3 linked regions of the Homo sapiens genome follow. The protein of the gene in region 3 purifies or fractionates together with the protein of the main gene of each other region. This does not show direct contact. Each region holds a gene or a part of one and is shown on either strand. Other genes may lie near its edges. The genes, in order: RANGAP1, MX2 and NUP214.

Region 1 (3,651 bases), on a different chromosome or scaffold from region 3:
ATGTCGCATTTACCATGGGCTCTGATTCCCATCGGTCAGTCTCCGTTTTTCAGTGCTTTTCCTAATGGTGTAACCAGGGTAGAAGCTACTTCCTGGCACCACACCAGGGACAGGGCAAGCTGGGTGTTAGGTTTTTACCACCAGCAGGCAAGCTCCTGCTGTGCCTGGCCAGCTTTTAGGCACAGGCAGGTGTCAGACAGGTTCGTCTGGACCGTGGACTTGGCAGCTGGCTCCCTTGGACATTGTGGAACGTGGAAGAGAAGCTGGAAGATTTGGGCTTTGGTCCAGAGTCCACCACTTGTTTATTGACCATAAGAAAGTTTCCGTTCCTCTTACCCTGAGTTTCTTCAGCTGGAAAATGGGAGCCATGATTTTCCCACCTAGCAGAGGGCCTTAGACAGTGAAGTGAGCTGACTAGGAAGTCCTTCCCCTGGACCTGGCTAAAAGTTCATCCACTCCATGTGGTCTCTCCCTTTCCTGAGTAGGGCTTGGTCTCCCCGTCTCGAAAGTGAAGCTAAACCTCTCAGGCTGGTGTGACACAGCATTAGAGATAAAAACCTTGTGTAACTGAAGTGCTGGACATATTTAAGGTGTGACTGTTGAGCTGTTAGCAGTCCTGCGTCCCCTGACCTGCACCGATGGGTGGCGTGGGATGTTGAAGAGCAGTTCAGCAGCAGTGGCCACCCCGCTGGGAGAAGGGGCTCCTGCCCATGACCAGGGCCCCTTGCCTTTCCCCACAGATCCTGGCTGCAGCTCTGACCGAATGTCACCGGAAATCCAGTGCCCAAGGCAAGCCTCTGGCCCTGAAGGTCTTTGTGGCTGGCAGAAACCGTCTGGAGAATGATGGCGCCACTGCCTTGGCAGAAGCTTTTAGGGTGAGTGGTTTCTGTCCATCCTGCCCCTGCAGCCTTGAGGTGCACTCGGCATAGTAGGCTGACAGTTCTGGATGCTAATCCCAGGGCTGGCACTCAACCAAGAGACCTGGGGCGTCACGTGCCCTCTCCAAGCCTGTTAACCCATCCGAAAATGAGCCAGAATTCCTGTCGTGCATTTCTGGAAAGGTGTGTGACTTTCCGGAAAGGTGTGTGACTGGCTCCCACTGGTGAGCCAGCCCCTATGGGGCTTCAGGCCAGGCAGGCCACTCTGACCAAGGAGTGTCATCTGCCAGGCTCAGAAGTGGTGAAGTGAGATGGTGCGAGTGCTGACAGTAGCCTGGCCCAGCCACTGGTGTGGGGCACAGAGAAGGAACATACCAGACCTCCAAGACAGGGAGATAGGCAGGGGCAGCCGCAGGGCTCAGGTGCCAAATGACGTGCTCTCAGGTGACCTTATCCCCACTCCTCTTCCACTCTCCTCTCCCCATCCCCGCAGGACATTGCTGAGTCCCCGATCGTGAGTGCCAGCAGAAGGCTACACTTGCCCCTAACAGGACTGAAAACTTTGGGGTCTGTCTCCCTCCTCTCTTTCCTGTTTTTTTTGAGGCAGAGTCTCATTCTGTCACCCATGCTGGAGTGCAGTGCGTGATCTTGGCTCACTGCAGTCTCCGCCTCCCAGGTTCAAGCAGTTCTGCCTCAGCCTCCCGAGTAGCTGGAATTACGGGCACCCGCCACCACACCCGGCTAATTTTTGTATTTTTATTAGAGACGGGGTTTTACCATGTTGGCCAGGTGGTCTCGAACTCCTGACCTCAAGTGATCTGCCCGCCTGGGCCTCCCAAAGTGCTGGGATTACAGGCGTGAGCCACCACGTCCGGCCCCTCTTCTCTTAATTTAAATGTTTTCTTCAGCAAACAGTATCCTAGGAGCATTGCTCATACGGGCCGGAATGTCCTGGCTGCCCATCGAGGCTGTCTGTAGATACCCTTTGCCTGCTTCAGTGCCAAGTGAACATCGCAGAGATCTGCCTTGTGTCTCCCTGCACCCCTGGCTGCAGGGGAGCTCCTGCTGCCTCCTCTGGAGCTGGTGGGGGCCTCACTGCCATCCTTGGATCCCTCCCTGCCGTCAGCCTGCTGTCCTCAGTGCACTGGGAGGAGGGGGTGCGCTGTGGTTGTGTTGAGCCTTCATAGGTGTCCTCTGGTGGGCTTAGAATGGGGGTTCTTAATCCCCCCCAGTATGTGGATAGAATTCAGGGGTCTGTGAACATGGATGAGGAAAAAATAACATTATTATTTATTACTAATGTAGCTAAAATATGTAGTGTGACCTTTGATTATAAATGTAGACAATAAACCTCACAGCATTAGAAAGGCCTGTGACTACCCACATAACAAACAAGCACATGTAGTCCCTGAACCCAAAAAAAAAAAAAATTTTATTGAGGCAGGGTCTCGCTCTGTTGCCCAGGCTGGAGTACAACGGTGCAATCTCAGCCCACTGCAGTTGAAGCTTCCCAGGCTCAAGTGATCCTCCCACCTCAGCCTCCCGATTAGCTGGGACTACAGGTGTGCACCACCATGCCCACCCAGTTAATTTTTGTATTTTAGTAGAGATGGGGTTTCACCATGTTAGCCAGGCTGGTCTCAAACTCCTGACCTCAGGTAATCCACTCGCCTTGGCCTCCTAAAGTGCTGGGATTATAGGCATAAGCCACTGCGCCCAGCTTAAAATTTTTAAAAAAATAAAAAGAAAATCTTGTGACTTTATCCCCAGTGGAAATCACAGGTATTTCATATGAAGTTATAGTTACTGCTGATATATAGAAATATTTCTCACTACATCAAAATTACAGTAATAGTGGACCCACCCCTAGATCTTGTTATTTGGTGCATTAACAAGAAGTTTGTATATCACTACAGCATGCGTTTGGAGTTTTTTCCTAAATGTTTTGATAACTGTTCCAACTGAGTTGATTTCCTTTGTAATTCTGTGTAATTTATCTTAAAATTTTAAAAAAACATTTTTTGAGGAGGGGACCCAGGGGCTTCACCAGACTGCCTGAAGGGTTCATGGCACAGAAAATACTAAGAAGGCCTGACCTGGAGTGTGCCCAGGTTGGCCTTCCTGTATTTATTTGTGGACCACCCGCTCCCCCCATTGCCCTGTGCTGCACTGAGCACCTGAAGACAGCAGAAGATTCCTTGGCACAGTTAAGCCAGGCCAACCCTCAGTCCTGGGTCACAGTGGAGACTGGGACATGGCCCTCTCCTCCAAAGCTCAGGGGCCGATGGGATGCAGACGGAATATAGGCTTTGAATGTAGGCAGGATGAGGACCACCGTGATAGAGGAGGGACCAGGTGCTCCGGGAGCACAGAGGAACGCACACTGGATCGTGGCTGGGGGAATCCAGGAAGCCTTCCTGGGAGAGGAGGTGACCAAAACAAGAGCCCTAGAACTCATATGAGTTAGCCTGTCAAGAAAATGCTGAATGGCTGGGTGTGGTATCTCACGTCTGTAATCCCAGCACTTTGAGAGGCCGAGGAAGCTGGATCGCCTGAGGTCAGGAGTTCAAGACCAGCCTGGCCAACATGGTGAAACCTCCATCTCTACTAAAAATACAAAATTAGTCGGGTGTGGTGGCGCACGCCTGTAATCTCAGCTACTCAGGAGGCTGAGGCAGGAGAATCACTTGAACCTGGGAGGCAGAGGTTGCGATGAGCCAAGATCATGCCATCACACTCCAGCCTGGGCGACGGAACGAGACTCCGTCTCAAA
Region 2 (3,651 bases), on a different chromosome or scaffold from region 3:
CAATTCAACAGTGGCTGGAGAGCCTTCATGTGGGGCTGGCCCCCAGAGTCATCTGGACCCCTGCTTTGGGCACAGGCTTCCCTCCAGGCACTCAGGATAGCAGCCCTGAGGTACCCTGGGCTGCTCTGCGAATTCCTCAGGTGGGCATGGAATGCCATTTAGCCTCAAAACCAAGAAGCAAGGCCAGGCACAGTGGCTCACATCTATAATCCCAGCACTTTGGGAGGCTGAGGCAGGTGGATTGCTTTAGCCTAGGAGTTCAAGAGCAGCCTGAGCAATGGTGGTGAAAACCTATCTCTACAAAAAAGTACAAAAATTATCTGGGTATGGTGGTTCATGCCTGTGGTCCCAACTACTCAGGAGGCTGAGGTGGGAGGATCACTTGAGCCTGGGAGGTTGAGGCTGCAGTGAGTCATGATTGCGCCACTACACTCCAGCCTAGGCAACAGAGGGAGACCCTGTCTCAACAAAACAAAACAAAATCAAGACACGAGGACATCAGAGGCAGTGGAATTGCCCTGTGTTGAGTTGCTGAGGTCGATGCCCCATATTTCTGGGTTTTGTTCGTTGAGAGACAGTTGCTGATTACCAAGGGTTCCACGGTCTTGGATGGACGTGTTCCACTCTTGGCACACTTATCATGTGCTGGACATAGCCTCTGGTCTGGGTAAATACCACCCTGTTTTGCAGGGAGCCCTGCCCAGAACTTACCTTTTTGGGTATTAGTTGCAAGTATGCCTACCCAGTTTTTAAAATCCTCTCTGATTTTGTTGTATAAACGGGTCTCATTCTCCCTTACAACTTCTTCTCCTTCTACTAACTTTTCGATGTCCTGATTAAACATCTTGATTTTCTGAAAATGATATAAAGTCAATAGTCTTTGCGGAAATCATATGAAAGAACTGGGACCGGCGTTGCAAGGAGATGTCCACCCGCCCACCTCATCTCATGGGTGAAGAAGGGGAAGGGCAGCTGCAGGGCCACCAGGGAAGGATGCAGTGTCACGTGGAGTCCTGCGGAAATCCTCACCTCAATTAGAAAGAACATCTTGTCGGCCTCCTGGCTGGGGATGTCAGCCCCGCAACGCCGCAGCTCCTCGGTCGCCTTCTGGTGGCTCTCCCTTATTTGTCCTTCTAACAACGGGAGCGATTTCTAAACAAAACAATTGCAAACAATCAAACTGCGGCTTAAGAGATTGGCCAACTGATTTCTTTGGTATATGAGTAGGAGCCCTTTAAAGCATCCAGGAAGATCTGGAATTTTTGACCCACCTGCCCCAGCCTCCCAAAGTGCTGGGATTACATGTGTAGGCCACCTTGACTGGTGGAATCTAATTGTAACAAACTTTCCAGGTAATTCTTGTGTGCCTTAAAGTTGGAGAACCACTGGCTCCTTCAAACCAAATTTTCTTTGAGTATGTGCTTCCTGGCTCAAGTAAGTCATTGCTTTTGTCTGATATACAATTTAGCATGGGCCAAGTCCTAGGATCTGGAATCATCTTTGCTCTAAGGGTACATTTAAATCTTCCCATGTTGCTTGGCCTCATTTGTGAAGGTTTAGGCAAGCACTAAAAATATTCGATTTCTCAATAACCGCCAAACCAAAGTTTTTCTATAATCGATGATGTCATGAGGCCCTTGTCTGTAGTTGTCTGCTTTTGAGAATCCATAAAAATGGACTTATTTCTTACAAACCAATTATTTCTTAGAAGTTTGAGGCTAGAAGAAATTTTTTTTTTTTAGATGGAATTTTGCTGTTGTTGCCCAGGCTGGAGTGCAATGGCACGATCTTGGCTCACCACAACCTCCACCTTCCGGGTTCAAGCGATTCTCCTGCCTCAGCCTCCCCAGTAGCTGGGATTACAGGCATGTGCCACCATGCCCAGCTAATTTTGTATTTTTAGTAGAGATGGAATTTCTCCATGTTGGTCAGGCTGGTCTCGAATTCTTGACCTCAGGTGATCCACTGGCTTTAGCCTCCCAAAGTGCTGGGATTACAGGCATGAGCCACCATGCCTGGCAAGAAAAATTTTTTATACCAGGAAGTATTAACAACATATTGAAAAAAGAAAACTTGCTCTCTCAGTGGTCACTCCTTTTTATATTGCTAAACTGTTTCCTTCTCTTCTTTTTCCCCCCTGTTGACCAATTCAAACATTTGTTTTAATACTATGTACTTGTTGCTTCCCCAATTTGGAAGTTCTTCCAGTGAGCCTGTGACAGTGAGTGAGACAGTGTTCAGAGGGTACTTGTTTGCTTGTTTGGACAGATCAGTGGGGCATCTTAGCCAACTCCAGACCAAGAGAGTGACTTGGGCATGCTGTATTGATGACTTGTCACCCAACCCACGTGGCTCACTTGGATATGCATGATGAGTTCAGTGGTAAGTCTTTCTGCCAGTCGGGGAACCGTGGCTGACCCCTCCTCCAGGAGAACTCTGAAATGAGACAGACATTCATGCATTCAGGAAGGACTTGTGTACCATCTTGCTAGTACCGGACTTTGTGCGTGGTAGGTGAGCCCAGCTCCCCGGGGCAACACGTGCCATCAGAAAAGCCAAGTGGTGCATAAGAAAGACACTTGCCACCAGCCTGCACCCAGGCAACTGTGGGCCAGGAAGCTTCCTTCCCTCCTCCCTTTCTATCATCCCCACAAACTCATGAGGTAGGTCATCTTAGCTACAGGAAAACAAACCCAGCCTCATGGAGATTAAGTGAGTTGCCCAGATTAGTATTTTATTTCTCATCACAAAAGTATATATGGTGCTTACTAAGTGCCAGGCACCAATCTAAGGGCTTTATAAATATTAACACATTTAGTCATTTAACAACCCACTTTAGAGCAAGAAAGGCTGAGACACAGAAAGGTTAAGCAGCTTGCTGCATTTGCTTGCTGCAGCCACACAGCAGGCAGCGTGGCTGCAGCATGTTTGCCAATAGCAGGAATTTAGGATGAAGCACACAGGATTATTCCCCAGCACTGCCAGTGCCTCTTACTGCAAGGGACGGCTCCCAGCAAGCAGGCATGCAAGGATTTCAGATTTCCCAAAGACCTTGAGAAGCGGTTTGCAAAGGGAGGTCCCTGGACTGGCAACATTAGCCTCAACCAGGAGGAACCTGTTAGAAGCAGGAAGTCTTGGGCACCTCCCCCGGCCTCAGGGCAGAGCAGGACAGAGCTAGCACAATTTTAAGGAACTCTCCAGAGAGTCTGCTGCTCACTCAGCATGGAGAACCATGGGCCTGATTATTTTGAAATCTTCTCCCAGCTCAAGGAGGAGAGTTTTCTTCTCCTCATGTCCTCCAGTGCTATTGGAAACAGTATGTTTCATCCACTCAGAGCAGGAGCAGAGAGGAAGAAAGAAGGAACCGGGTGGTGTTTACTGAGTGCTGGCTGTTGGCGCTCAAGACCTTTGTGTATGTCGTGTTACGTAATCCTAACCACAATCTTGTGAGGCAGTAGTAGGATCCCCTGGAGAAGATGGGAAAGGCAAAATTCCGAGAAGGTGGCCCATATTGTAAGATCACATAGTCAGCAAGCCGTAGACCTACTCGGCCCAAATTCAGTTTTCCCATTAGCTCTCCTTCAAGCAGGAGTGACCTCTGTGCTCCTGGATCATTCAGGAACAACAAGTTCCAGAATGAAGGGGAAAAGT
Region 3 (3,651 bases):
CACAATATTGCCCTCTTAATATTCCATTTTATCATTCATTCATACAAACCGCCCTCAGGAATTTACAATCTAGAAGATAAATGACAACAGAGTCAAAGCACCTATCTCAGAAGCAGTAAGGCCACTCTATGATCTCTAAGCAGAGAAGCAGTTTGTGTGTGAGATACGACAGGGATAGCAGTTGAGAGCCCATTGGGGGATGGCTGGGCTTTCTGTAGCAGAAGTTTGAGTGGGGACTTCTTGCAAGATGAGCAAAGCTGCAGCAGTAGAGACACATGACAAATGTGCATGTGGGAATGGTGGCCGGAGCAGATGGTCTGTTAAGTGAGGGGACAGAAGGAAGGTCTGGTAAGACAGAAGCACTTAAGACTAGGGAGAGCCTCTCAGAACCCCTCCAAGACCAACAAGCATGTCAGAGAGCCCCACACTGCTAGGGAAAACAATGGATACAATGAAATAGAAGCCCTAACTCAGTCATTTTGACAGAACTGAGTTTTACGGCTAGGAAAATCTAGTTCAAAAACTTTGTGACTCCTTTCACCATCTCCTCTCTCCTTTTGTACGTTTTCTTTACACTGTAAGTGAAGACACCATAGCTAAGGAAGAAAATCCCACGCGAGTGTGAATCAGAACAGATTATTCACTGTGATAAAAACTCAGGCCAGGCATGGTGGCTCACATCCCAGCATTTTGAGAGGCTGAGGCAGGTTAATCCTTTGAGCCCAGGAGTTTGAGACCAGCCTAGGCAACATGGTGGAACCCTGTTTCTACAAAACAAAAACAAAAACCCAAAAACCAAACAAACAAAAACAAAAACCCCCAAAAACCAAAACCGAAAAATTAAAAAACAAAAATCAGCCAGGTGTGGTGGCGCGCACCTGTAGTCCCAGTTATTCGGGGGGCTAAGGCAGGAGGATCACTTCAGTCCTGGGGGTGGAGGTTGTAGTGAGCCATGACTGTACCACTGCACCTTTTTTTTTTTTTGAGACAGAATCTTGCTCTATCTCACACACACACACACGCAAAGTTCAAATTGCAGATTTCAAACTAGCTTTAAAATATAACGAACCAAGCACATCAAATATACTAAATAATGTAATAACTTAGACACCTTTGCCCATCATATTAAAAATAAAAAAAAAAACACAACCTTTCTTAGTGAAAAAATTTTATCTAATAGTGTCAAGCCATTGATTCAATGACCCCACCTTTTCTGGGTTATTTTAAAAATGGGAAGAGGGCCAGGTGCAGTGGCTCGTGCCTACAATCCCAGCACTTTGGGAGGCTAAGGCGGGTGGATCACTTGAGGCCAGGAGTTCAAGACCAGCCTGGGCAACATGAAAAAACCCCATCTCTACTAAAATACAAAAATTAGCTGGGTGTGGTGGTGCACACCTGTGATCCCAGCTACTTGGGAGGCTAGGGCAAGAGAATCACTTGAACCCGGGAGGTGAAGATTGCAGTGAGCTGAGATCTCACCACTGCGCTCCAACCAGGGTGACGGAGTGATACTCTGCCTGAAAATCCAAAAAAAAAAAAAAAAAAAAAAAAAAAAAAAAAGAAAAGGAAGAAGAATATCATTTCACAGAAGACTGATTATTAGCCATCTGTAAAGGATGCAATAATTCTTGGCATTGACCTACTCTTTAAAATTTGCTGCAAATTACCTTTGGGAAGCATAAAACATAATGATTTATAATAAAGAAAAAATATATGTATTACTTTCCCCCTCAAATAATATTCTAATACCCTCTTTTCTCCTTAGGCTGAAGGACACTCAAAAAATATATTAAAATCAGGAAAAAGAGACTGGTTAATATGCTCCTAGTTACAAAAGCATAAACTGAAGAACTTAAGAGGCTTTTCTAAGGAACTGAATGCACAATGCTTCAATGGCAAAAAATCCTTTTGACACATTTTGATCTCAGTTCCACAGAGTCTAACCCAATGCTTCAGCAGCTCACACAGGTTTCAACATGAGCGCTCAGGGCACAGAGAACAGGCACCTTAACAAAGGCTCATCTTGAGATAAGGTATAGAAGATTCTTTCATTTTTAAAAACAACTCAACTTTACAAGTACAGCCATCATTATTATTATTATTTTTTAAAGAAACGGAAACAGATTCCTCCACATCTATATAAAACCTCAAATTTCAAATGCCTATTATCTTTCATTACATTCTCTAAGTTTAGTATACTGTACTCTCGATGCAGTAAGCCTTTTTTTTTTTTTTTTTTTTTTTTTTTGGAGACGGGGTTTCACTCTGTTGCCCAGGCTGGAGTACAATGGTGTGATCATAGCTCACTGTAACCTCGAACTCCCGGGCTCAAGGGATCCTCCCACCTCAGCCTCCCAAGTGGCTGGGACTATAGAAGTGAACCAACGTACCTGGTTAATTTTTCAATTTTTTGTAGAGATGAGGTCTCACTATGTTGCCCAGGTCAGTCTCCAACTCCTGGCCTCAAGCAATCCCTCCCACCTTGGCCTCCCAAAGCACTAGGATTATAGGCATGAGCCACCATGTTTGTCCAGCAAAGTCAATTTGAATGTCACATCTAGCCCCCAAAATGGTGTCAGAATGGAAACATCTCAGTGTGACAAACTAGATGAACTACAGAATTTAGCAGACTCATTACTCAAAGAAAATGAGGCTTAGGCTAAAAAACAAAACAGATACACAAATATGTAACAAACAAGTATTAACTTGAATTGCAAAGGGAAAATCGATTTACATGAGAACATTAAACTATTGCCACTATCATCACATGTATTACTGCCACGGTAAGAACTCTGGGTTCATACACATTTAATAAGTAAATAAATATATCTATAATTGTAAGATTTGGGGAAGCTAATTGCTAGTAATTTGCCATAAAACTTAAGTTCATTACTGACCCTGATGGAGAAAATGAGAAAGGCTTGCTGAACTGCCCAGAAGCAGATGGGGTTGAAGTCACAGCTGTTTCTATCTTGGCTGTCCCTGAAATTATGGAAAAAAAAAAAAAAAAAAAAAAAAAAGAATATTACAAAAAGACAGAAACACTGTTCCAGTGTATAATTCCCTGTAGCTCAGCCTGTGAGGTGCTGCTTAGCACCACATGTGCCTTCTGTGACACGTCAGTGGCCATGGGGAGTGAGCACGTTGCCTCACTTGTGTTTGAGGTCTCTGAAATTGCTCCGTGGCTCTGTCAATGTTAATTCCAGTCTAAGGTGTGCCATCTTCTCCTTTACAGAAAATATATCAAAATAATTCTAGTATAGTTTAAATGTACAGTTTTAAAAGTACACTCTTATATATTTCAATGGTATGGGAAAATGCTTATAATGTGAGGCTAAGCCCCCTCCCCACAAAAGTAAATAAAACTATATATAATGTAGCTTTATAATTATTTGAAATTAATCTATGCTGAAGGACAAAAATCCAAAAGAGAAATAGGTTCATAAGCTAAATATTTCTGAGTAGTGACTTTAAGGCTGTTTACTTCTATATACATTTCTGCATTTTCCACAGATTTTGTTGGCATTTAACAAATAATCGTGTTCTTTTTTTAAAATTACAGATGTAAAACATGATTGCTATAATATGGAGACATGCAAAAAGGTTAAAAGTGCAATCCATCATTCTCCCCATGTTCGATTTCACTCTAAC

The links.
Region 1: the proteins of NUP214 (region 3) and RANGAP1 purify together in Homo sapiens (affinity purification with mass spectrometry, with the first as the bait; one large-scale study listed by BioGRID). This does not show direct contact.
Region 2: the proteins of NUP214 (region 3) and MX2 purify together in Homo sapiens (affinity purification with mass spectrometry, with the first as the bait; one large-scale study listed by BioGRID). This does not show direct contact.

Annotation. Positions count from the first base shown.
Region 1 is NC_000022.11:41,258,670-41,262,320, reverse strand, and holds part of RANGAP1 (ran GTPase-activating protein 1), read left to right. Parts: intron 1-740; coding exon 741-875; intron 876-3,651. UniProt on the Homo sapiens protein: GTPase activator for RAN. Converts cytoplasmic GTP-bound RAN to GDP-bound RAN, which is essential for RAN-mediated nuclear import and export. Mediates dissociation of cargo from nuclear export complexes containing XPO1, RAN and RANBP2 after nuclear export.
Region 2 is NC_000021.9:41,396,398-41,400,048, reverse strand, and holds part of MX2 (interferon-induced GTP-binding protein Mx2), read right to left. Parts: intron 2,437-3,651; coding exon 2,358-2,436; intron 1,153-2,357; coding exon 1,030-1,152; intron 854-1,029; coding exon 712-853; intron 1-711.
Region 3 is NC_000009.12:131,191,539-131,195,189, reverse strand, and holds part of NUP214 (nuclear pore complex protein Nup214), read right to left. Parts: intron 2,983-3,651; coding exon 2,898-2,982; intron 1-2,897. UniProt on the Homo sapiens protein: Part of the nuclear pore complex. Has a critical role in nucleocytoplasmic transport.